7 linked regions of the Homo sapiens genome follow. The protein of the gene in region 6 interacts with the protein of the main gene of each other region in a pairwise test. Each region holds a gene or a part of one and is shown on either strand. Other genes may lie near its edges. The genes, in order: CD72, NKG7, ZBTB16, TIMMDC1, NINJ1, ATP6AP2 and SEC22A.

What was found.
Region 1: the proteins of ATP6AP2 (region 6) and CD72 interact in binary tests that used the Homo sapiens proteins (3 or more experiments, as listed by UniProt).
Region 2: the proteins of ATP6AP2 (region 6) and NKG7 interact in binary tests that used the Homo sapiens proteins (3 or more experiments, as listed by UniProt).
Region 3: the proteins of ATP6AP2 (region 6) and ZBTB16 interact in a two-hybrid assay, tested with the Homo sapiens proteins (one study listed by BioGRID).
Region 4: the proteins of ATP6AP2 (region 6) and TIMMDC1 interact in binary tests that used the Homo sapiens proteins (3 or more experiments, as listed by UniProt).
Region 5: the proteins of ATP6AP2 (region 6) and NINJ1 interact in a two-hybrid assay, tested with the Homo sapiens proteins (one large-scale study listed by BioGRID).
Region 7: the proteins of ATP6AP2 (region 6) and SEC22A interact in binary tests that used the Homo sapiens proteins (3 or more experiments, as listed by UniProt).

The regions. Positions count from the first base shown.
Region 1 is NC_000009.12:35,609,482-35,612,447, reverse strand, and holds the end of CD72 (B-cell differentiation antigen CD72), read left to right. Parts: intron 1-528; coding exon 529-644; intron 645-1,694; coding exon 1,695-1,824; 3' UTR 1,825-1,846; intron 1,847-2,147; coding exon of another isoform or gene 2,148-2,298; 3' UTR 2,299-2,466; downstream 2,467-2,966. Other genes in the region: TESK1 (dual specificity testis-specific protein kinase 1), read right to left, coding at 2,706-2,966. UniProt on the Homo sapiens protein: Co-receptor of B cell receptor (BCR) that plays both positive and negative roles on B-cell functions. Recognizes the Sm/ribonucleoprotein (RNP) self-antigen ligand, and coligation of CD72 and BCR inhibits BCR signaling.
Region 2 is NC_000019.10:51,371,120-51,373,973, reverse strand, and holds NKG7 (protein NKG7), read left to right. Parts: upstream 1-1,319; 5' UTR 1,320-1,438; coding exon 1,439-1,595; exon of another isoform or gene 1,596-1,666; coding exon 1,667-1,813; coding exon of another isoform or gene 1,814-1,899; coding exon 1,900-2,034; intron 2,035-2,138; coding exon 2,139-2,197; 3' UTR 2,198-2,354; downstream 2,355-2,854.
Region 3 is NC_000011.10:114,254,488-114,257,265, reverse strand, and holds the end of ZBTB16 (zinc finger and BTB domain-containing protein 16), read right to left. Parts: 3' UTR 501-2,778; downstream 1-500. UniProt on the Homo sapiens protein: Acts as a transcriptional repressor. Transcriptional repression may be mediated through recruitment of histone deacetylases to target promoters. May play a role in myeloid maturation and in the development and/or maintenance of other differentiated tissues.
Region 4 is NC_000003.12:119,512,047-119,515,546, reverse strand, and holds part of TIMMDC1 (complex I assembly factor TIMMDC1, mitochondrial isoform 1 precursor), read right to left. Parts: intron 1,907-3,500; coding exon 1,828-1,906; intron 1-1,827.
Region 5 is NC_000009.12:93,127,752-93,131,251, forward strand, and holds part of NINJ1 (ninjurin-1), read right to left. Parts: intron 1-3,500.
Region 6 is NC_000023.11:40,590,970-40,594,469, reverse strand, and holds part of ATP6AP2 (renin receptor precursor), read right to left. Parts: intron 3,237-3,500; coding exon 3,105-3,236; intron 1-3,104. UniProt on the Homo sapiens protein: Multifunctional protein which functions as a renin, prorenin cellular receptor and is involved in the assembly of the lysosomal proton-transporting V-type ATPase (V-ATPase) and the acidification of the endo-lysosomal system.
Region 7 is NC_000003.12:123,208,443-123,211,942, forward strand, and holds part of SEC22A (vesicle-trafficking protein SEC22a), read left to right. Parts: intron 1-378; exon of another isoform or gene 379-495; intron 496-756; 5' UTR 757-775; coding exon 776-957; intron 958-3,500. UniProt on the Homo sapiens protein: May be involved in vesicle transport between the ER and the Golgi complex.

The sequences.
Region 1 (2,966 bases), on a different chromosome or scaffold from region 6:
ACGCCCAGCTAATTTTTGTATTTTTAATAGAGTCGGGGTTTCACCATATTGGTCAGGCTGGTCTCTAACTCCTGGCCTCAGGTGATCCACCTGCTTCAGTCTCCCAAAGTGCTGGGATTATAGGTGTGAACCACTGCGCCCGGCCTCTACTTTAATGTGTATCTCATCTCAGCTTGCTGGTCAGCTCCCTGGGCTGCTTGACAGGTTCCTGGACTCTTGTGGCCTCTCAGGCAGAGAGGTCCCACACCTGGTGGGCTGGATTGTAGGGATTAGTTCCTTGGGGCCAGAACAGCACACAGAATGACTCCCCTCCAAAGGCTGGCAGAGATTCTTACTCAGCTGGAAGGCAAATTTAGCAGTGAGCCTGCATCTGCAGGGTGGCACTTGATGGATTCAGGGACAAGTTACCAAAGAGCTGTCATATATACAGCCCCCTTGCCAAAGCTGAGGCCTCCCTAGGGTGTGCATTTTCTTCCATATTTCTCATCACTCTCCATGTATCTCTGGTCTCTCTGAATCTCCCCTCAGCACTCTTACTACTTCTTAAATTCACTGTTGCCAAATGGTGGTTCAGGGAATTCATATTGGACTGGCCTCAGCTCTAACAAGGATTGGAAGTTGACTGATGATACACAACGCACTAGGTAAGTTTGTTAGGACTTCTGGGTATTTTCAACTCCATAATCCCCTCCATAAAGACATGGTAATCAGATTTCCTTCCCACCTGGTCCCCTCAGGACTCTCCCATAAATCAACACTGTAATTGCCTATTTGTCTGTTTCCTCTATTTGATTAATAACTTCTTAGGGCAATCTTATTCTCCATTCTATTTCCACCTAGAAGTCCCTGGCACATACTTTTTTGTTTCAGTAACTACTAGGTTGGGACCTACGCTATCTTTTAGGGGGAGACATTAAGGATTTAGTTAAGGCTCCACAGCTGATGACAGCAGCGTTTCTCCATCCTTCGAGAAGGCCACCCAAACTGAGGTTGTACTTTCTCAGTAGCGGCCACTTGGGGCACTAGAGCTGCCTCAGTGAAGTACGCAAGGGAGCAGCGGGGGTACCATCGAAGCTCCACTTCACTGTGATCAAGACAGCAGTGGGGTACCATTGAGGATCAACCCTAGGGACCCTGAAACAGGGTGGCAACCTCCTTATGTTCCTCAATTGGCCTTCCCATCTTTTTTTTTTTTTTGAGATGGAGTCTCGCTCTGTCGCCCAGACTGGAGTGCAGTGGTGCAATCTCAGCTCACTGCAAGCTCCGCCTCAGGGGTTCACACCATTCTCCTGCCTCAGCCTCCCCAGCAGCTGGGACTACAGGCGCACACCGCCATGCCCGGCTAATTTTTTGTATTTTTAGTAGAGACGGGGTTTCACCGTGTTAGTCAGGATGGTCTCGATGTCCTGACCTTGTGATCCACCCGCCTTGGCCTCCCAAAGTGCTGGGATTGCAGGCATGAGCCACCGTGCCCAGCCTGGCCTTCCCATCTTTAAGATCTCGAGTTATTTTTCCCTCTGCTGGTTCTAAAGTCTGTTTTAGTTGAACTCCAGACATCTGTCCTGAACCATGCCCAGATGTGGCCTTAGGCAGGCAGGGTGAGTTAGGATTTAGGTTTTATACAGGGGAAGGGGAGAGAAGGGAGGGTGGGATATGTCCAGAGCATATCCCAGCTCTACCTTACTACTTTTTAGGACTTATGCTCAAAGCTCAAAATGTAACAAGGTACATAAAACTTGGTCATGGTGGACACTGGAGTCAGAGTCATGTAGAAGTTCTCTTCCCTACATCTGTGAGATGACAGCTTTCAGGTTTCCAGATTAGGACAGTCCTTTGCACTGAGTTGGTAAGAGTGAGGGATGGGGCTGAGGCATGGGGAGTCCAGGGGCAGAGGGACTCAGAGCAGGGACTCAGAGCAGGGGCCCAGGGGCCCGAGAGAAAACTTGTACCTGGGATGAAAGTTCCTCCACAGCCTCCAGTTGCTTGGTCTGCTTGTTAGGGTGGGGTGGGCAGGGAGGGACAGGTAAGGCCTACAACTTATGGGAGGCTGGTGGTGTGGCTGTCGAGAGCTGAGGAGGAGATGGGGTGAGTGGGATGAGGGTTCAGTTAAGTCAACCATGGAGCTCACTGATACTTTACTTTTCCAGACACTCATGCCAACAAGAACCTGTGCCCCTCCTTCCTAACCTGAGGCCTGGGGTTCCTCAGACCATCTCCTTCATTCTGGGCAGTGCCCAGCCACCGGCTGACCCACACCTGACACTTCCAGCCAGTCTGCTGCCTGCTCCCTCTTCCTGAAACTGGACTGTTCCTGGGAAAAGGGTGAAGCCACCTCTAGAAGGGACTTTGGCCTCCCCCCAAGAACTTCCCATGGTAGAATGGGGTGGGGGAGGAGGGCGCACGGGCTGAGCGGATAGGGGCGGCCCGGAGCCAGCCAGGCAGTTTTATTGAAATCTTTTTAAATAATTGCACGTGTTAGTCTCATGTGTCAGCAATGCTGTGTCTGGTTCAGTGATCCCCACGGGAACGCGAGCCGGGGGGTCGACTGGAAGTGCTCTGTCCCTTGAGTCCATGCTGGGGCTCCCCTACACGGGGAGAAGAGCCGGTCAGCCCATCTGGAACTGGCACTGTCCAGCAAGTGTGCTCTGTTCTTACAGGGTGTCCTGAAGGCCAAAGTTGGAGGCCTGAGACCACGGGCTCCACTGCTAAGAGCGTGCCCCAGGCAGCTGCAGGCTGGGTGTGGGTGGCTTGGCGTGGTGCCCTCGGTGGCAGAGGAGACTGCCCGCCTCACAGTTCAGGTTGCGGTAGCGGGCAACAGCTGGTGTGGGGCGGGGGCACATGGACAGGAAGCCAAAGCTGAAGGGGCCGAGGCAGCAGCCAGGACAGGGCAGCCCCTCATCGGGCTCCCGGGGAGCTGAAGGGGGTGGCGAGGGTTCTGTCCGCTCCAGGGCTGCCGCCCGGGGCAG
Region 2 (2,854 bases), on a different chromosome or scaffold from region 6:
ACAAGAGTGAGACTCTGTCTCAAACAACAACAACAACAACAACAAATGCCTGAGACTGGGTAATTTATAAAGGAAAGAGGTTTATTTGATTCACAGTTCAGCATGGCTGGGGAGGCCTCAGGAAACTTACAATCATGGTGGAAGGTGAAGGGGAAGCAAGCCACTGTCTTCACAGAGTGGCAGGAAGAAGGCCAAGCGAAGGCAGGAAGAGCCCCTTAAAAAAACACCATATCTTGTGAAAACTCACTCACTATCACAAGAACAGCATGGGGGAAGCCGGCCCCATGATTCAATTACCTCCACCTGGTCTCTACCTAGACACGTGAGGATTATGGGGACACAATTCAAGGTGCGATTTGGGTAGGGACACAAACCCTAACCATATCACCGTTTCACAGAGGTCAAGTTTTCCTGGGCCTTCTACCTGGGCTGTGGTACCGTCACCTTATACCTGCTCGTAGATGAGGTGTTGCCAGGACCTGATGGTGTGGATGGAAGAGGCTAGCGTTTGGGGGGCTGGAGAACCCTAAACCAAAATCCTTATGTCCCCCAACACCCCCTAGGCCCCCCGATCCTGGTGATAAAGGCCACCAGGCTGGAGCCCCCACCCAAGCAGGGATGCCACTGAACTCATTAATCAGATGAGGATGTGGGTATGTCTGACTCTCTGCAAACCTTTCAGAATTGTGATTCTCTGCTGTTTGCCTGCCCTTGGCATATGCTCCAAACTGGGGCCCAGGATTCTGAGCTCCTGCCCGCCTCTTCCTCCCTCAGGACCTGGAGTTCAGGCCCCCAGCTCCTTCCTCCTTAAGCCCCAGGAGTTCTAACTCCCAAGTCCCCTCCTTCAGTAGAGACCCTAGACTTGGGGACTTCCTCTCCCAGAATGGAAGACTGCATAACCCACAGGAAAGCATGACACATCCCCAGCTGTCCCCTCCAGCCACATCTGCCCTCCCCCTTAATGTACACCCTAGCCTGATTGGCTTCCTCCCACCTCAGGGCCCCCAAGCCTCTCTCTCTCACCTCTTCCAGGAAGCCCCGACTTGGTGTTGAAGGTTCCATGGGTGGGAGTTGTAGAATCTGTGACAGAGGCAAGTACTAAACCACCGCCCAAACCACTGATGATCTGACACCCTCAGTGCCCTCCCCCATCACACACTAAGCGGGGAACTGGACCCCAGGGAGGGGAGGGAGGACGTTGCCTGTGCAATCCAGGAAGGGAGGGTATGTGAAAAGCTACCGGGAACTGTGTGAAACCAAACCAGCCTCATGTGACAAAGCGCAGGACCCCTCACTGCCCCAACTGCTTGCTGTTCTCTCTTTCTTGGGCTCTAAGGACCCAGGAGTCTGGGTGCACAGCCTCCTTCTCTCTGAGATTCAAGAGTCTGATCAGCAGCCTCTTCCTCCTCCAGGACCCAGAAGCCCTGAGCTTATCCCCATGGAGCTCTGCCGGTCCCTGGCCCTGCTGGGGGGCTCCCTGGGCCTGATGTTCTGCCTGATTGCTTTGAGCACCGATTTCTGGTTTGAGGCTGTGGGTCCCACCCACTCAGCTCACTCGGGCCTCTGGCCAACAGGGCATGGGGACATCATATCAGGTAAGGGGAATGGGTGTCCTACAGAGGGGTTGCCAGCGGGGATGGGTGCTCAGTGGTCTTCTCCCGATCAGGCTACATCCACGTGACGCAGACCTTCAGCATTATGGCTGTTCTGTGGGCCCTGGTGTCCGTGAGCTTCCTGGTCCTGTCCTGCTTCCCCTCACTGTTCCCCCCAGGCCACGGCCCGCTTGTCTCAACCACCGCAGCCTTTGCTGCAGGTAAGGACTCTGGACTGGACTGGGGCATCGCGAGCCAGCGAATTCCTGCCGAGGAGCTGAGCCATCTCTCTTGTCCTTGTCCCCAGCCATCTCCATGGTGGTGGCCATGGCGGTGTACACCAGCGAGCGGTGGGACCAGCCTCCACACCCCCAGATCCAGACCTTCTTCTCCTGGTCCTTCTACCTGGGCTGGGTCTCAGCTATCCTCTTGCTCTGTACAGGTGACTATCCTGCCCACTGCCCTGGGGAGCTTTGGGAGGGTCCAGTTGGGGTCCCTGAGGACAGAGGGCAGGGGCAAGTGCTTAAACTCTTTCTGGCTCCCCAGGTGCCCTGAGCCTGGGTGCTCACTGTGGCGGTCCCCGTCCTGGCTATGAAACCTTGTGAGCAGAAGGCAAGAGCGGCAAGATGAGTTTTGAGCGTTGTATTCCAAAGGCCTCATCTGGAGCCTCGGGAAAGTCTGGTCCCACATCTGCCCGCCCTTCCAGCCCTTCCCCAGCCCCTCCTCTTGTTTCTTCATTCATTCAACAAAATTTGGCTGGAATCTGGTTATTTTGAGATTAATTCTGCCAAGACATAAGCCAACTGTCTGCCAGCTCCATGGTAGGAGCTGGGCACCAAGGGAAGGTGAGGGCCCACCAGGCCGACCAGCCTGCAGGGCGCTCCTGCCCAGTACGAGTGCCCGGCCCGTGTGGACACAGGCTCCAACCCGTGTCTATGTCTCCCCTTCTCCAGCACTTTTCTTCCTCCCTGTGTCTTTCTCCCTTTAGCTGGCTCTCTTTCCTTCTCTCTCCCTCTCTGATTTTGTCCCCCTTGCCAGAACTCAGCCCTTCCTTGCACTCAGTCAGTTCTCTTTGCACATTTCCCCATGCTGGGGACACTGGCACGGGTCAGACCCAGGCCCTGCCCAGCAGGGGCTCAGTCTGTGGGGTGGTGGGGAGGAGGCACTTACAGACCAGAAGCAGTTAATACAGGCCAGACAGCAGTCCCAGTGCAGGGAGAATGCCGGAAAAAGACTGACCATATTGTGGAGGGATGGAGACG
Region 3 (2,778 bases), on a different chromosome or scaffold from region 6:
TGTCCGGTGGTAGGGGTAGCTCCAGGCGGTTTCTGCTCAGCAACCCCAGGGTCAGACAGACCCGGGTCTTGGCCCCAGGAGAACAGGGCTGAAAGGTAACCCTCCCAGTGCCACCCCTGGCAGGCCAGGCCTTGTTTGGCTCCCCAGGTGGGTGGCGGTGGCGCGTGGGGTGATGGCTCCCTGCGACTCCTGGTGATGCTGGAGGCCAGGCCTGATGCTCGGTGTGGGTTTACCCTACCGGAGTGACCCAGCACGACAATCATGGCTGTGTCCCCTGGGTCTTGAGGAGGAGAGGGGTTATTTTGGTCAGAGACAGGCAGTGAGGACGGCCTCAGGCAGAGGTGCTGAAGCACCACGTCTAGGATTGAGTGGCTTTGGTTTTACAGCTAAAGATAGGGCGATGCTTCTATCCCCGATAAGAGGAACGGGGAAAGGGCCAGAGAAGAGGGCTTGGCCCAGACACAGGGAGATGAGACAGGGAGGGAATCGTACCCATTGAGTGTTGTGGAAATCCTTTATTCCGTCCATGACAATGCAGAGCTTGCACGGCCACCTCCCACCCATCCCCTCCCCTGCACAAGGCCACCTGCTCCAATCTCCTTTCTTAACAGCTCTTGGCTGCTACAGACGCAGGCAGGGACCTTTGATTGTGTGGAAGCTTCTTGTTGAGAAATTTCTGAAGCTTGCTTAGCCACTAAGGAGTCAGTTGAAAATGTCTCTCTAAAGACTAAAGAAGACGTGAGACCCCTGCTTTGAGAACTCTGGAGTAAAGGAACCTGGCCTGGTATCAGGAGAGGTGGATGGAGTTCTGACTGCTGCTCACCAGCCGTGCAATCCTGAGCAAGTTATCCTAACACAGCCACGGATTCCGACTCAGCGGCCCGCTAGCATGGTAGCCCCAGGGCGGCCAGGGTTTGTCTGTTTGTCCTTTGCTGTAATTCCCAGCGCCGACAACAGTAACTGGTACATGGTGGTCTTGCTGAATAAGTGAACAAGTGCCTACCTAGCACATTGTACCAAGGATCATACGATATTAACGTATTTAACATTTTTTAACTAAAAAGTATTAGAAAAATGTTATTCAGTGCATCTGTGCCTTGTAAATGTGGCATAAAAGTGACACATAGATAAGTCTAAATATGTGTAATACAGAGCTTTCTTTTTCCCAGTCCCCACACAAAAATCTTAATTCCTCTACCATGTTCCCCACACAAGAAAAGGCAAAAAAAACAAAAAAAAAAAACAAAACAAAACCAAGTACTTCAATAAAAAGGTGGGACGCTTCAAGCGAGAGACAACTGAATTAACTTTATTCTCTTCTAACTGCAGATTCAAGGTATACAACTGAACATTGCTATTTTTCTTATGAGACTTATAAATAAAAATACAAAAAATGTTCACTACAAAAAAATCTACTGTTAGTAGGATGTAAAAAATATTCTCTTTGCTATAGAAGGCACAAACTTCACTTAGTGACACATGGAGAGAGAAAAAAACCTGCAGCAGTAAATTCATTTTTTCTTTTTTTTTCCTTTTTTTTTTTTTTTAAATCTTGTCAGAAACACTGAAATTACAAAGAAACGCGTCAATCTACACGAAACGAAGGCAGATGCGGAAAGCTGCAACCAGGACTGCACAACTTCGAGTGAAACTGCTTCGGAACTAGAACAGATAAGGAGCGGCAAGCACAACTCGGGGAAGTGGGCTGGGGAGGGGGCAGCAGGAGGCAGGAGAGAGGGAGAGAGAATGGAGTGGACAGAAATGAGACGGGGAGCCAGAGGGAGGAGGGGAGGGCGGGAGAGGGAGATGGAGAGGGCAAGGGTGAGAGGTGGGGAGGAGAGAAAGAGAGAAAGAGATTGATTTGTACAAAAAAGTAACCAGTAAAATTGAAGAAACAAAATTGGGCAACCTCCTAAAATTAGGCTAAGAGGAGGTGCTGAGGTAGACATTAACTAGAACATTGATGAATTAAAAACACTATTCTGTAATACAGAGCAATCCGACTGGCACTTGTGCTATCACGACATAAGACAAGCCACAAAAACAAACAAATAACAAAACGAAACATAATACCCAAACCAAAAGGCTTAGTTTTGCTTGGTCCAGCAGGGCAGCAGGGCCCTCAGTGCTATAATTTACATACATATATATATATATTTATCTTTATATATACGGGTTGGATGTCATGGTGCACCACCACGGCTTCTTAACCTTACGAAGATCATGCATAACACTATGTGAACAAATCCTATGATACACACCAGGAGGCTGGTACCCTGTCTGCGAAGTTGGATGCCAAGGGCCCGGGGAGGCCGCAGCTGCTGGCTAACCGGCCTGCAGGGCCTGCACCCCTCTTTCTCCCCACCCTTTTCCCCTGACCCAACCTCTCTGGTTTGTCCTGCACCCCTCTCCTGGCCATCTCTGCCTTTTTCCTCTCCCCATCTGTCCCACCGCGTAGGGTGAGTCTCGCCTTTCATCCTCCCACTGAAATATCCAGGTAAGTGCCACCATTACAGCCAAGCCGGCAGAGGCTCCAGGAAGGAGGAGGTATGATGGGAGGGGGAAAGATGACCACAGGATGGGCCTAGGAAAAGTGAATGAACAGAGTCTCATCTTCTGCTTTTCTGTCTCACATCCTGGTGCGCCCCCAGTTTTCACCCTAGCTCGGCTTGCCGGGAAGCAGGCCCAGAAACTACCCTGACCCTGCCAGCCGTCATGGACAGAGTCGAAAGGCTGCCCCACCTCTGCTCTCTCCCCTATAGGGAGGTAAGCTCAATG
Region 4 (3,500 bases), on a different chromosome or scaffold from region 6:
ATCTTACATGGCAAAATTGATTTCAGAAATGTAATTAAGGTTACTAATTAGTTGAATCTGAGATAATGAAAAAGGAGATGGCTATCTGAGTGAACACTCAAAAGCAGAGTTTTCCCTGGCTGGTGGCAGAGTAGAAGTTAAAGATTTGAAGTATGAGAAGGGGTTAATGTGCTGTAGCTGGTTTAAACACAAAGGGGCCCTAGGAGAAGAAATGTGGGTGGCCTCCAGGAACAGAGAATAGTCTGGCTGACAGCCTGCAAGGAAAACAGGGACCTCAGACCTCAAGGCACAAGGAAGTAAATTCTTTTTTAGTTTTTCCTCTTTTTTTTTTTTTTTTTGAGATGGAGTCTTACTCTGTTGCCCAGGCTGGAGTGCAATGGTGCGATCTTGGCTCACTGCAACCTCTGCCTCTGCCTAGGTGAAGGGTATATGGGGTTCAAGCAATCCTCCTGCCTCAGCCTCCCGAGTATCTGTGATTACAGGCGCTTGCCACCACACCTGGCTAATTTTTGTATTTTTAGTAGAGACAGCATTTCACCATGTTGGCCAGGCTGGTCTCAAACTCCTGATCACAAGTGATCTACCTGCCTCGGCCTCCCAAACTGCTGGTTTTACAGGTGTGAGCCACTGTGCCTGGCCACAAGGAACTAAATTCTGTCAACAACCTGAATGAGCTTGGAAACAGATTCTTCCCCAGAGCCTCCAGGTAAGAGCCTAGCCCGGCCAAGACCTTGACTTTGGCCTTGTAAAATCTTGAGCAGGGAAACCCAGCCAGATTTATAATCTACAGAACTACAAGGGTGTTGTTTCACATGCAATACATGCTCAGTTTGTGGTAATTTGTTGCACAGCAGAAAACCAATATATCAAGTAATTAAAGTTAATATTACTTATAATGGGTGACAGAATATCTCCTGATGTGATACATGAGGATACAACTTCACCTATGTTGTATTCCTGACAAAAATACATTAATCTAATCATGATGGGATGATCAAACAAAATGGAGAAACATGTGGGCATTAGTATGATAACTGAGGAGTTTTTAATATAGACCCTAACTTAGATAGTTGTGTTGAAACAATGTTTACTGTGATAATTGTATTATGATTTCATGGAAGAGTATTCTTCATCCTGGGAGATACATGCTGATATATATGGGGGTGAAGTATCATGAGGTCTCAAACAGTTTAGCCAAGAAGCAAACGGAAAGAAAAAGAAATATATTCACATCCCACACATATACATAGATATGGAAAATATCACCAAGGCGTTAACAACTGGTGAATCTAGGTGAAGGGTATATGGGGTTTCAATGTACTAATTCATTCAACTTTTCTGTAGGTTTGAAATTGTTCAAAGTAAAAAATTGAGGAAGAACATTTTTTAAAAATGTATTAAGCAAAACAAACAAAATCCTAACAATTTTTACAGAATATGCTTGTTAACTGTTTTTTGTTCTTTTTTCCCTGCTCCCATAAATACCTGTGTTCGAACTATAGTTTCAGGTGTTAGCAATATTTAAACAGTTTTAGCTGGTAAAAAGGCATTTTGAATAAGGGCCCTATCTTAGATAGTTGTATTGAGTCAATGTTATTTATTGTAATAACTACTAAGTAAAAGAAACTATAAATAAAAACTGTAAATAAGATAAACTATTGGGGTAGAATTAGAATGGACAGTCAAAGCTACTGCCAATGCAAGACTAGAGATCTTTTATAGATTCTAAGGATTAAATTTGTTCTTTGAAAATAAATGAGACTTTTTAATAGGCAAGGTATTAATGAAAATTGTGCCAATTTAGAACCAAACCATGTTAATGCTTACCCCAGCAAGGCTCCAATTATGCCACCAGCCACCAGGCCACGCAGGCCTACGTTTATCCTAAAAAGACTTCCCGTGACAGCTATTTAAAAACAAGAAAGGCAATATTAAATCATCTTTAAAACTAGAATCCTATTTTAAAACTTTCCTTCTACAAAAAGGAAATCCCTAAGTGAGCTTTCTGAATCCAATGTTAATATACTACTACAGCCTATACTTCCTGAATCTAAAATGCCAACACAGGTAGCTTCCCATCCACTCTGCAGATTCAAAGGAAGACACATCCCTTCTACAAAAGTAAATCTTCAATATGTTCTATGGATCCATTCATTCTGCTTCATTTTTGCCCATCTCTCCTTAAAAATCTGAAAATGTTTTTCCCCTTCTCTTTCTTTCTTCTTTCTTCAAGGAAAATAAAAAAGCAAAAAACCTTCACTAGCCCCTCCAGTTTATGCCTTCCCCTAGACTCACTCTCTCTGTACTGCTACATGGCACCACTCAGGCAGGGTGACAAGCAAGCAGCATTTGGCCTACAATGCTACCTGGTGACCAGTGCACAGAAAGACTTCTTTCCTTTCTGCTGGGACTGTGCATCAATCATGCTCATTCATTTTCCTTTCACTATGCACAATGCAACTAATGCCATCTAAGGTGGTAACACTTTTTAAATAATAACATTTGAAGCCAGGTGCAATGGCTCACACCTGTAATCCCAACACTTTGGGAGGCCAAGGCAGGCGGATCACTTGAGGTCAGGAGTTCTAAGTCAGCCTGGACAACATGGCAAAACCCTGCCTCTACTAAAGATACAAAAATTAGCTGGGTATTGTGGTGCACGCCTGTAATCCCAGCTACTCAGGAGGCGGAGGCACAAGAATTGTTTGAACCCCAGAGGCGGAGGCTGCAGTGAGCAGATATCACACTCCTGCACTCTAGCCTCAGCGGAAGAATGAGACTGTCTCAAAAAACAAAATAAATAACAGTTGAGGTTTATATTTTTAAGTACTATATATTCATTTTTAAAATTTTCAAAATTAACAAGAATCAAAATCACCTTTAATCCCATTACCCAGAGTCAGTAATAAGTTAGTCTTTTTTTCTGATCCTCCAAACAAAATAAAACAAAAAACAAAAACAACAACTGGGGCCGGGCACGGTGGCTCACACCTGTAATCCCAGCACTTTAGGAGGCCGAGACGGGTGGATCACGAAAGTCAGGAATTCAAGACCAGCCTGGCCAAGATGCTGAAACCCCGTCTCTACTAAAAATACAAAAATTAGCCGGGCATGGCGGCACACACCTGTAATCCTAGCTACTCAGGAGGCTGAGGCAGGAGAATCACTTGAACCCAGGCGGCAGAGGTTGCAGTGAGCCGAGATCGCGTCACTGCACTCTTGCCTGGACAAAAGAGCAAGACTCTGTCTAAAAAAACAAAATAAAACAAAAACACAAAAACTGGGGCCATGGTGTACATACTAAATTTTTTATTTTCACAGAACATATTATTAAATTCTGTATCACTGAGTTTTCTCCCACCTAGTTCCATTGCATGGAGGTACCACAAATTTTTGTCTAACACTTAGATTTTCTATTTATAGATATTTTAAATAAAGGTATGATGATAATCCCTCCACAAATAATCTTTTTATACATTTGATTGTTTCCTTAGGACAAA
Region 5 (3,500 bases), on a different chromosome or scaffold from region 6:
TTGGAGGCAGCTGTGAGAACCCACTGCTGGCAGCCAACCTCCTGGGGCCCTCTCTGGGAGATCCTGTTTCCAGACTCATGAAAGATGCAGGCCGGGAGGCCGGGGTGCCGCAGGGCCACAGGGAGGGGCGGACATGGTATCCATCCAGGCCTCGACTTTCTGCAGGCTGGAAAAATACACGAGGCAGCCAATACAGAACCAGCAGAGGGCAGGGGCCTTGCTTTCATGCTGCGTGTTTTTCAGTTTCATCTAAAATTATGTGCCCAGGAGGAAGAGAGTGGGCGTCAGGGGACACTGGTGGGCTCTGCTGCTTACACCTGGGCCTGGGAATTCCAACAACCTGCCTTCAGCATCAGCTGCTCTCTAAGTAGCAAGTTCACGTGGACACATGTGCGCACAGGGACAGCCGCCTTTACCTGGGCCACCCAGCAGCGCTGTCCCTGGGGCCCTGGTGTGCTCTCGGGTCACTCCATGCATACCCCGAAGCCTCTATGGGGTGTCTACTTTGCCTCTCCCACCCTGGGCCTGACGCTGCACTCCCTGGGATTCCCCCAGGCCCCAGCACAGCCAGGGCACTCACCAAGTGAGAGGCTGTGTTCCTCTCCCATTCTACAGACCAGCAGATTGCAGCTTGGAGGAGGTTTGCCCAGAGCCACCTCCCAGGACTGTGTGTCCCTGTCCCACCACTGTCCACTTAGGGGCTTCCTCCCAGGCTGCCCAGGGTCTGGGTGAGGACAGCCCGGACACAAGGGCCTGTGCCTGGCACTGAGGTCGTCTCCAGTTCTGCTCTTGCGAAGCTGCCCAGTGGGCCACACCCCATCACACGTGTGCTCCGCAAGGTGCAGTGTCCCAGGGGCTGCTGGCCACAGTGGGCATGTGCTCCTAAGTTTCACAAACCTCAAGTGCCAAAGTGCCTTCCTTCAAGGCCACCCTTATGCTCATTCGGGTCTCCATCCCAGGACTTGGTGCTGGGAGAAGGCCAAGTGCAGACCCCGTGAGGATTTCCACCTTCTGGGGGCATCTACACATATATGTGCGTGTTCCTAGTCACAAAAGCACAGAAACACACATCCCCCAGAAAGACACACATAGACGTGAGACACACATGTGCACACAATACGCACACACAAATACACATGCACATACATACATATGCACACGTACATAAACAGACACACAAGCCCAGGCTAACTGTGTTGGCCTCTGGGCAGGAGGAAGAATTCCCTTTTTTTCTGAGCTCTGCAGAACCATTTAAATATTTCACAGCCATGCAGTCACGAGGAACACTCAGATCCATTAAAAAGCACCATCCGCGCAGAGCCTCCAGCTCCCCAAGCCTCAGCTCTCAGCACCCCCAGCCACGAGGAGCCTGTGCCCCTGCTGTCCTCATGCCCACTTAAGGTGGGTAAACTGAAGCCCAGCAAAGGCGGTTCCTTACCCAAAGCCACATAGCAAGTGAGGGCTTGGCTAGGATTTGAACCCAGGCCCCGGGGCTCAGAAGCTCTGGTAGCTGATGCCATTGTCCCTTAGGGGCTGAACTCTCAATGGCTCCCTGCTTCAGGCTCCAGCTGTGTCCGGACAACTAGCCCCACTTTGTGCCTCAGTCTTCCATGTGTACCACGAGGCTGTGGAGCAGATGCCCCAGGATGGCCTCTGAGCCCCGAGTGGCCAGCAAATGCCCTGACCATGCACCCCTGCTGGTGAAGGGCACTTCCAGCCCATCCGGCCATCTGCTTCCTGTCCAACCTGCAGCTAGGGAAGCTTCTGCATGCAGGTCAAGCCCTGGCTCACCACAGCCCAGCCCGTGGCCCTGACGCAAGCTCCCCCTCCGTTGGCCTCAGTCTCCCCCTCCGTATATCTAGGGTTGCACCTGGGAAACTCCTGCTTACCAAGGGAGAGGCTGTGTTCCTCTCCCATTCTACAGACCAGCAGATTGCAGCTCAGAGGAGGTTTTCCCAGAGCCATCTCCCAGGACTGTGTGTCCCAAAGCATAGGGCTGCCCCAGGATACAGCATAGCTGGCAACCACCCCAGGCAGCAGGCCACATTGGGAGCATCATGTGGAGGGGAGGGCAGCAGGGACAGTCTGCTTCCCTGTCCCTAACCTTGGTACTCTGGGCCTTGGAGCCCTGAGCTGACCACCACACAGGAGGGTCCCAGGGAGGACGATCCCACTCTCCCCCAGTCCTGGGCACTTGCCTCTATCTTGGGATGGGCCTGAGGGTGGCCGGGGGACCCAGCTACCACAGGTGAGGGAGCCCTGTGGTCCTGACCAGCCAGCAGGAGCTGCCAGGAGCTAAGCCCTGCTGAGACCAGTGCCCATGGCTTGGGCAGGGCAGGGAATAAACACCCTGGTTAATAGATTCCCAGAACCTCAGCAGCACTCGGGGCCTGGGGCCAGGCCAGATATATTTCCTCTGAAAGCTAGGAGGGAGGCTTGGTGAGGAGGTCAGCTCTGTGTAGGGGCGTGGCTGGCTCCTCATGCAACCTTCTGTGGACGGTCGGCCTCCCCACTGCAGGCTGCACATGTTGGGGCTGGGCCACACGGTCGGTCCTAGGGCCACTTCAGTGAGCATCCTCAGCTCAGGCAGGAGGGGCTGGCACAGAAGTGGGATATGAACCAGGCTTGCTGCATCCACCGGCCTGGCTCTGGCCATAGCATAATGGGTGTTCTGGCTCACCCAGGGCTTGGATGGGAGGAGACAGGGTCGGGGCTGTGGGCCCACAAATGTGGTGATGCATATCAGTCGCCCTTTCCAGGGGCCTGTGAGGAGTAGGGCTGGAAGCTGCCACAGCACCTCCTTTACCCCCCGAGTCCTGCCTCAACACTGACCACTCTATGCCTCAGTTTCCTCATTTGTAAAATGGGTAGACAAGGATGTGGAGGGGACTGAATGGGGTGGTCTCAGATGCCCCGTGGCTGGTGGAGCGCATGGCAGTGGGTGGCAGGGCTGTTTTCCTTGATGCCTGGCTCTCACTGTTTTGAAAGACTCTGCCTCCCCGACCAACTCCACTGACTCAAAAGCAGCTGAACAGGCTCACAAAACAGTCACACAGCAAAGAAAGGACAGCCTGGGGCACAGGTTCTCCTGTGCTGAGCAGGACCCAGGGGGACAACAGGGACGAGGTGCCTGCCCTGGGTGCCTGGGGGGTCCCAGTCTACACCTTGGCTGCTCGCAGCCTGTCCTGCTCACTGGCCCTAACCCTTGGACTCAGCAGGCATTGGCAGATGGTGGGGCGACCTGAAAATCAGGCACCCCTCTTCTACCCCACCATATGCTAGGACCTGCCTGGGGCTTCCGGCATCCCTTGTCTGACCCACCAGTGTGGGCATGAGCTGCTGTGCCCATTCCCCAGATGCCACACAGACAGGCAGGGCCTGGCACTGGAGCCCTGCACCGTCTCCTACCGGCCAGCCCAGGAAGCAGGCCCTGAGAGGGTCTCCCAGCTCCATGTCTGTGTTCCTGGCAGGAAACCCCAGCAAGACAGCAGGAAGTGCTG
Region 6 (3,500 bases):
AAATAATACTCAGCCTAGCTCATACTACACAATCACTACATTTTCCTTGCTTTCCTTCTACTCTCATTCCTTTGTAATGACAGTGTCTTTTCTCCCTCACAGCTTTTAAGATTTTCCATTTCCTTGATGACTCTTCAATTTCACCGTATGTAGGTGTGGATCTGGCTTTTGCCTACTGGGTGTTCCATATGCTTTAAATCTGAGGAGTTGTTATCTTCTGTTTGTTACTATTTCCAAATACTTTTTATTTTATTTTTAACTGACAAATAGTAACTGTATATATTTATGGGGTACAATGTTATGTTTTGTTATAAGTTTACAAAGTAGACTGATTAAATCAGGCTAATGAACAAATCCATCACCTCACATACTTATATTTTTTTTGTGGTAAAAGTATCTAAAATCTACTCCTTTAGCAATTTTGAAATACACAATGCATTATTATTTAATATAGTCACCATTTTGTGCAATAGATCACTAAAGCATGATCCAGCAAGCCCACTTCTGGGTATATATATCCAAAGCAATTGAAGTCAGTATGCTGAAGAGATATCTGCACTCCCATGTTCACTGCAGCACTATTTACAATTTCTAAGATATGGATGGAAGCAACCTCGGTGTCCATAATCAAACGAATGGATAAAGATAATGTGCAGCTGGGTGCAGTGGCTCACACCTGTAATCCCAGCACTGAGATCCACTGGGAGGCTGAGGTGGGTGGATCACCTGAGCTCAGGAGTTCGAGACCAGCCTGGCCAACATGATGAAACCTCATCTCTACTAAAAATACAAAAAATTAGCTGGGCGTGGTGGCATGCACCTGTAATCCCAGCTACTCAGGAGGCTGAGACACCAGAATCCCTTGAACCCAGGAGGCAGAAGTTGCAGTGAGATGACATTGCGCCACTGCACTCCAACCTGGGCGACAGAGCAAGATTCTGTCTCAAAAAAAAAAGAAAAAAGCAGAAAGAAAATGTGGTATATAAACATAATGGAATACTATACAGCCTTTAAAGCGCGGGAAACTGTCATTTGCAACATGGATAAACCTGGAGGACATTATGTTAAGTGAAGTAAGCCAGGCATAGAAGGACAAATACTACATGACCTCACTTGTAAGTTGAACTCATAGAAGTAGAGTAGAATGATGGTTAGAAGACGCTGGGGGAGACGGGTGGATGGGGAAAGGAGAAATGTTGATCCAAATACCTTTTTTTTTTTCCCAGATGGAGTCTCGCTCTGTCACCCAGGCTGGAGTGCAGTGGCGCAATCCCAGCTCACTGCAACCTCCACCTCCCAGTTTCAAGTAATTCTCGTGCCTCAGCCACTGAGTAGCTGGGACTACAGATGCGTGCCACCACGCCTGGCTAATTTTTGTATTTTCAGTAGAGACAGGGTTTAGCCATGTTGGCCAGGCTGGTCTCGGACTCCTCGCCTCAAGTGATTCACCCGCCTTGGCCTCTCAAAGTGTTGGGATTACAGGCGTGAGCCATGGTGCCGGGCTCCAAATACCCTTTTAAGATATCATTTTATTATTATTTTCAGATTTAACTGCATTGTGGTCAGAGAAGTTAGTTTATATGACACTGATTCTTTATTGTTTGTTGAGATTTGCCTTGTGGACTACTGCACAGTAATTTTTTCTAAGTATGCCATGTGTACTTGGAAATAATCTATACTCGACCACAGGAAAGTCTGAAAAAAAAAAAAATCCCAAAACTTCAGCATCACATAGACCACAGTATTACAATGCAGTGAACTTAGAAATTTAAAAATTAGAAATTACTTTTTTAAAACCCATGCATTTGGAAAAAATACTTCTACATAACTCATGGGTTAAAGAATCACAATATAAATTATGAAATATTTTGAAGTATCAGCTAAAGCACCATGTATCAAAAATGTCTTATAACTCCCTCATAGTTTCTGTTCCTTCCTTTTTTTCACAAATTTTTTCTCTTTCTTTCTTTTTTTTTCCCCCTAGAGATAGGGTCTTGCTATGTTGACCAAGCTGGTCTCAAACTCCTGGCCTCAAGCAATCCTCCCATCTTGGCCTCCCAAAGCTGGGATTACAGGCGTGAGCCACCATGCCTGGCCCTTTTTTTCACAATTTTAATGTATGTATTTTTAGATCTCTTGGAAATTGGCCTATTCTCCGTAGTTCTAAGGAGATGAATTCTGTTTGTTGCACCTGTTTCTCATGGCATTTTTTTTCCTTCAGGTGCTTTGTAAATTCCACTCATCTTCCGTATTTGACCAAAGGAGCCCTTGGCTATGGAGATGTCCCTATGGGGCAGGTCATGTGAATTTGCAAAGAACCACTCTGCACAGCATAAGCCTATAATTCTAATTCTAATTTATCTCAGGGGACTCTTTGGGTCCAACAGCCAAGGGCAGCAAGCCAGCTTTACTAGTTTTACTAGTCTGCTTTTCAAGAACAAGTTGACAGCATTTCTAGTCCCTGGCTTTCTGCAGGAAACACAGTTTCAGCGTCAGCTTCTGCTCACCACTATGGCTTCTGAGTTTTCCATCCATATGTAACACCTGTGTATATCACCCCCTCTTGCATTCAAATTTAGTTATGCTAGTAAAAATGTTTTTTGTGACATTCTTTCAAGCACTTCTATATGCTTATAATGGAAGGAGGGCCTCTTAGATCAGCACAGTCACCCACATTGCCTGAATAGCCAGTGAAGGAGTAAGTGAGCCAGCAAGCAGCCTCCAGTGTCCTTACACACGAAAAGAGGTAAAATCCTGCAGGGAAGATGACAAGACAATGGCCAAAAAAACAGTAGCAGGATACAACCCCAACTGGTTTCTCCTTTAGTGGCTCTCTTTTTCAAGCCTCTGGCTATTCTGAGTGGGGCAATTTCTCTATCTCTTATCTTAAACAGTACTCTCATCCACAGAGAACAGCCAAGCCTCAGTTAATTACAATCATCATGTAATTTTCTTAAAAAGAAATTGTGTTTGTCAAAGAATTTCAAAAGAAACTGTGCATCAAAAACAGATAAGAGAAGTATGTTTAGAATGCAATTCATAATGACAGCTGACAAGGGAAAATGTAAAATGCATCCCTTTAATTTTTTATAATAAATACTCACATTCTCCAAAGGGTACGAAATGACACTGCCTGGGGGTAGAGCCAGTTTGTTCACTCCCTTCACCATCACCATGACGGTAGCCCGAGGACGATGAAACAGGTTACCCACTGCGAGTCCTGGCCAAGAAAGGTCCTAAACATTGAAAAGCACAAAGCGGTGCTTAATTATCAACTCAGGAACCCACCTCCCCAATAACATCTAATAAGCAGAGTTAAGGGGTTCTGAGATGACACTGACAAGGAAAATTCACAGGGAAAGTAAACATTTTATTTGTGGCAGTCGTTGCAATCCCCTAATCAAGAATGCTGATTTCTACCCTCTTCATTTTCTTAAAATTTTACAGATTTGAAATAAAGTCCAATAGTAAGTCATCTGACACCTTTTGTGGAAAAAAGC
Region 7 (3,500 bases), on a different chromosome or scaffold from region 6:
AGAACTGTTTGTACCAGTTTTTACTTCCATCTGTACTTATGAGAATGCCAGACAGAAGTATTATTTTTTAAAAAGCTAATGTGGCTGGGTGTGGTGGCTCATGCCTGTAATCCCAGCACTGTGGCAGGCGCCTATAGTCCCAGCCACATCCTATGCTGTGGCATGGGAACCCAGGCTGAGGCATGAGAATTGCTTGAACCCTGGATGGGGGATGTTGCAGTCAGCCAAGATGGCGCCACTGCACTCCAGCCTGGGTGACAGAGCAAGATGCTGTCTCAAAAAAAAAAACAAAAAACAAAAAACAAAAGCTATATGTTAAGTGAAGCATAGTATGTTGTTTTAATTAGTTTTTTGTTTTTTTTTTCCTCCTGAGACGGAGTCTCACTCTGTCGCCCAGGCTGGAGCTCAGTGACGCGATTTCGGCTCACTGCAACCTCTGCCTCCCGGGTTCAAGCAATTCTCCTGCCTCGGCCTCCTGAGTAGCTGGGATTACAGGTGTGCACCACCACGCCTGGCTAATTTTTGTATTTTTAGTAGAGAAGGGGTTTCATCATGTTGGCCAGGCTGGTCTCAAACTCCTGATCTTGTGATCCACCCTCCTCAGCCACCCAAAGTGCTGGGATTACAGGTGTGAGCCACCACACCTGGCCATTTTAATTACTATTCTTATATTACTAGTAAGTTGAACATTTTTACATATGCTTATCAAGTTTGGCTTTAATTTTTATGTAACCCAAATTGTTCATTTTGTTTTAGGTCTTCTCTGTTGGTTGAAATGTCTATGATTTTATCTGCCTCAGTCATTCGTGTCAGAGATGGACTGCCACTTTCTGCTTCTACTGATTATGAACAAAGCACAGGAATGCAGGAGTGCAGAAAGTATTTTAAAATGCTTTCGAGGAAACTTGCTCAACTTCCTGATAGATGTACACTGAAAACTGGACATTATAACATTAAGTAAGACTTCAGTTTGCTTCATTTGACTCATTTGCCCAGTAGTTGTCATTTTAATGAAGTTTAAGTGGTTGCAATAGAAAGGAGTGATTAGGAAAACCTGTTCAAGTCGAGCATCATATTGTTCTGAACTTATACTAAATAGTCATCATGTCAGCAGCAGCCTTTTTGTAGTTTCTTTGTATCTGGCTCTGGGAAATTTTATAGTTGTGCAGATCATAGATATCCCTCTTTTAAGTTGATCACTAAATATTTATTTGCATTCTTACATACCTAGGGTTGTAGTAAGCAAACTATAATTGGAAATAAAAATTTTTTACCTGATATCTGCCCTCAAAGAACTGAAGCAACTTACGTCTAGTGGGAGGGGGTAGCACTTATCACTGAGTCACATACAAATCAAGTAAAACTGGGCAATGGGATAGAGAGTGACTATTTATTGTGGTCAAGACACTCTCTGAGAGGGTGACATTTGAGCAGAGACCTAAAAGATGAGAGAGGAGGTAATTATATGAAGGATGCTGTGGATGAAGAGCAAGGCAGAGGTAGCAGCCAGTGGAGAAGCCCTTTTTTACATGCCAAGAGACAGAAAGAAAACCAGTGATCCTGAAGAATTATGGACAATTAATAGAGTTGCAGAAAGTGAGGCCAGAAAGGTAGGAATGGGGCAAGTTATGTAGTGAGTTTGGAGTCTATTAGTCTGTTTAGTCTAATGCAGTAGGAAGCCATTGGGTAGTTTTAAGCTATAGAGTTACATGATTTCATTTGGCTTAGAGTAGATCATTCTGCCTGCACTGTGAAGAATAAAGGAGGAAGTGGAAGCAGAGAGGTCAGATGGAAGACTCAGAGAAGTTCAGGTGGAGGTGCTGATTGTAACGAGCTAGGGTAGTAATGAATAGAAGTAGTTAGATTGGGGCTATATTTTGGGATTAATACCAGCAAATCTTCCTACTGGATTGAAATAGGATGTGAAGGTAAAAGAAGAATAATCACCTGTAGTTTTTTGGCCTGAGGAACTGGATGAATAATGTAGCTGAAATGAGCAAGAAAGGAGAGGATAAGTGCGTCTCCTTGGTAAAAAGTAAGAGTTCTGTTTGGACATGTTAAATCTGAGATGCCCATTAGACATCCAAGGGGCACTGCTAGGTAAGCAGCTGGATATATGAGTCTGAAGCTTAGTGAAGAGGACAAGTATAGACATTTAGATTTGGAAGTCAGCTTACAGTTTGTGATTAAAACCATGGGAATGGATGAGACCACCTTGGAAAGCTTAGACGTGAAACAATTAGAGAACAATTAATGTCTGATATCAAGCTGGATATTGATTATGCATACAGAAGGAAATAAGGTAAAAACACAGTCCATATAGGATATAATAAGCAGAGGGCTTCGTTGTTGAGATGAGACATGAGCCATGTCCTGAAGAATTAATAAGAGTTGGCTAAGGCAGGGAGGAGGGCATTCCAGGTGTACGGAGGAGAGGCAGAATAAGCAAAGAATGTGACTTAGCATGGTAGGTGTATTAACATGCTTATCCTGGGTCAGTGGATGGTGATTTATGGATAGTTGTGAGACATGCGTGATAATCATTGTGGGGCCAGATCCTGGATCGCCCTGAAAGTTCAGATTGAAGGACGTGACTTTGATGTAATATGTTATAGGAAGCTGTGCTGCAGGTTCAAGGGAAGTGACTTGATAAAAACAATCCTGAGACAGTGGAACTTAGGGTGAGTGGACAGTCCAAGAGGAGAGAGATAAGGCAGAGAGGCCAACTTATTAGGGCCTGAAGTAAGAAAATAAACGTGCAAATGAAAATTAGAACACCAAAAGAACTAGAATGATAATGAGAAATAGTTTGATTGGGGATCACTTTGAAGTTGGATCACTTCAAAAGAAGTGACCAAGCTGGATAGGATGGAATACCAGAGATGAAAAGAAGGAAGGGGCAAAGATGACTGAAGCCTTGGAATTGGACAGAATGTTGGTGTCATTGCCAGAAATGAGATCTTTGGAACAGACTGTTTATGAGGTGTGAGGCAGAAGAGAAAGATAATGAAGCTCCATTTTGATCATTTTTTTAAGACACTGGGGCTTGCTCTGTTACCTAGGCTGGAATGCAGTGGCATGATGACAGCTCACTGAGCCTCAACCTCTTGGACTCAAGTGATCCTCCCACTTCAGCCTCTTGAGTAGCTGGGACTACAGGTGCACACCACCACACCCAGCTAATTTTTTTATTTTTAGTAGGGATGAGGTCTCACCATGTTGCCTAGGTTGACCTCAAACACCTGGGCTCAAGTGATCCTCCTGCTTGGCCTCCCAAAGTACTGGGATTACAGACATGAGCCACTGCACCTGGCCCACTTTAATTATTTAACTTGAGGTTTTAGGCCAAGCACAGTGGCTCACACCTGTAATCTCAGCACTTTGAGAGGCCGAGGCAGGCAGATCACTTGAGCCCAGGAGTTTGAGATCAGCATGGGCAACATGGGGAGACCCTGTCTCTACAAAAAACTAAAAAATTAGCCAGGCGTGACATAGTCCCA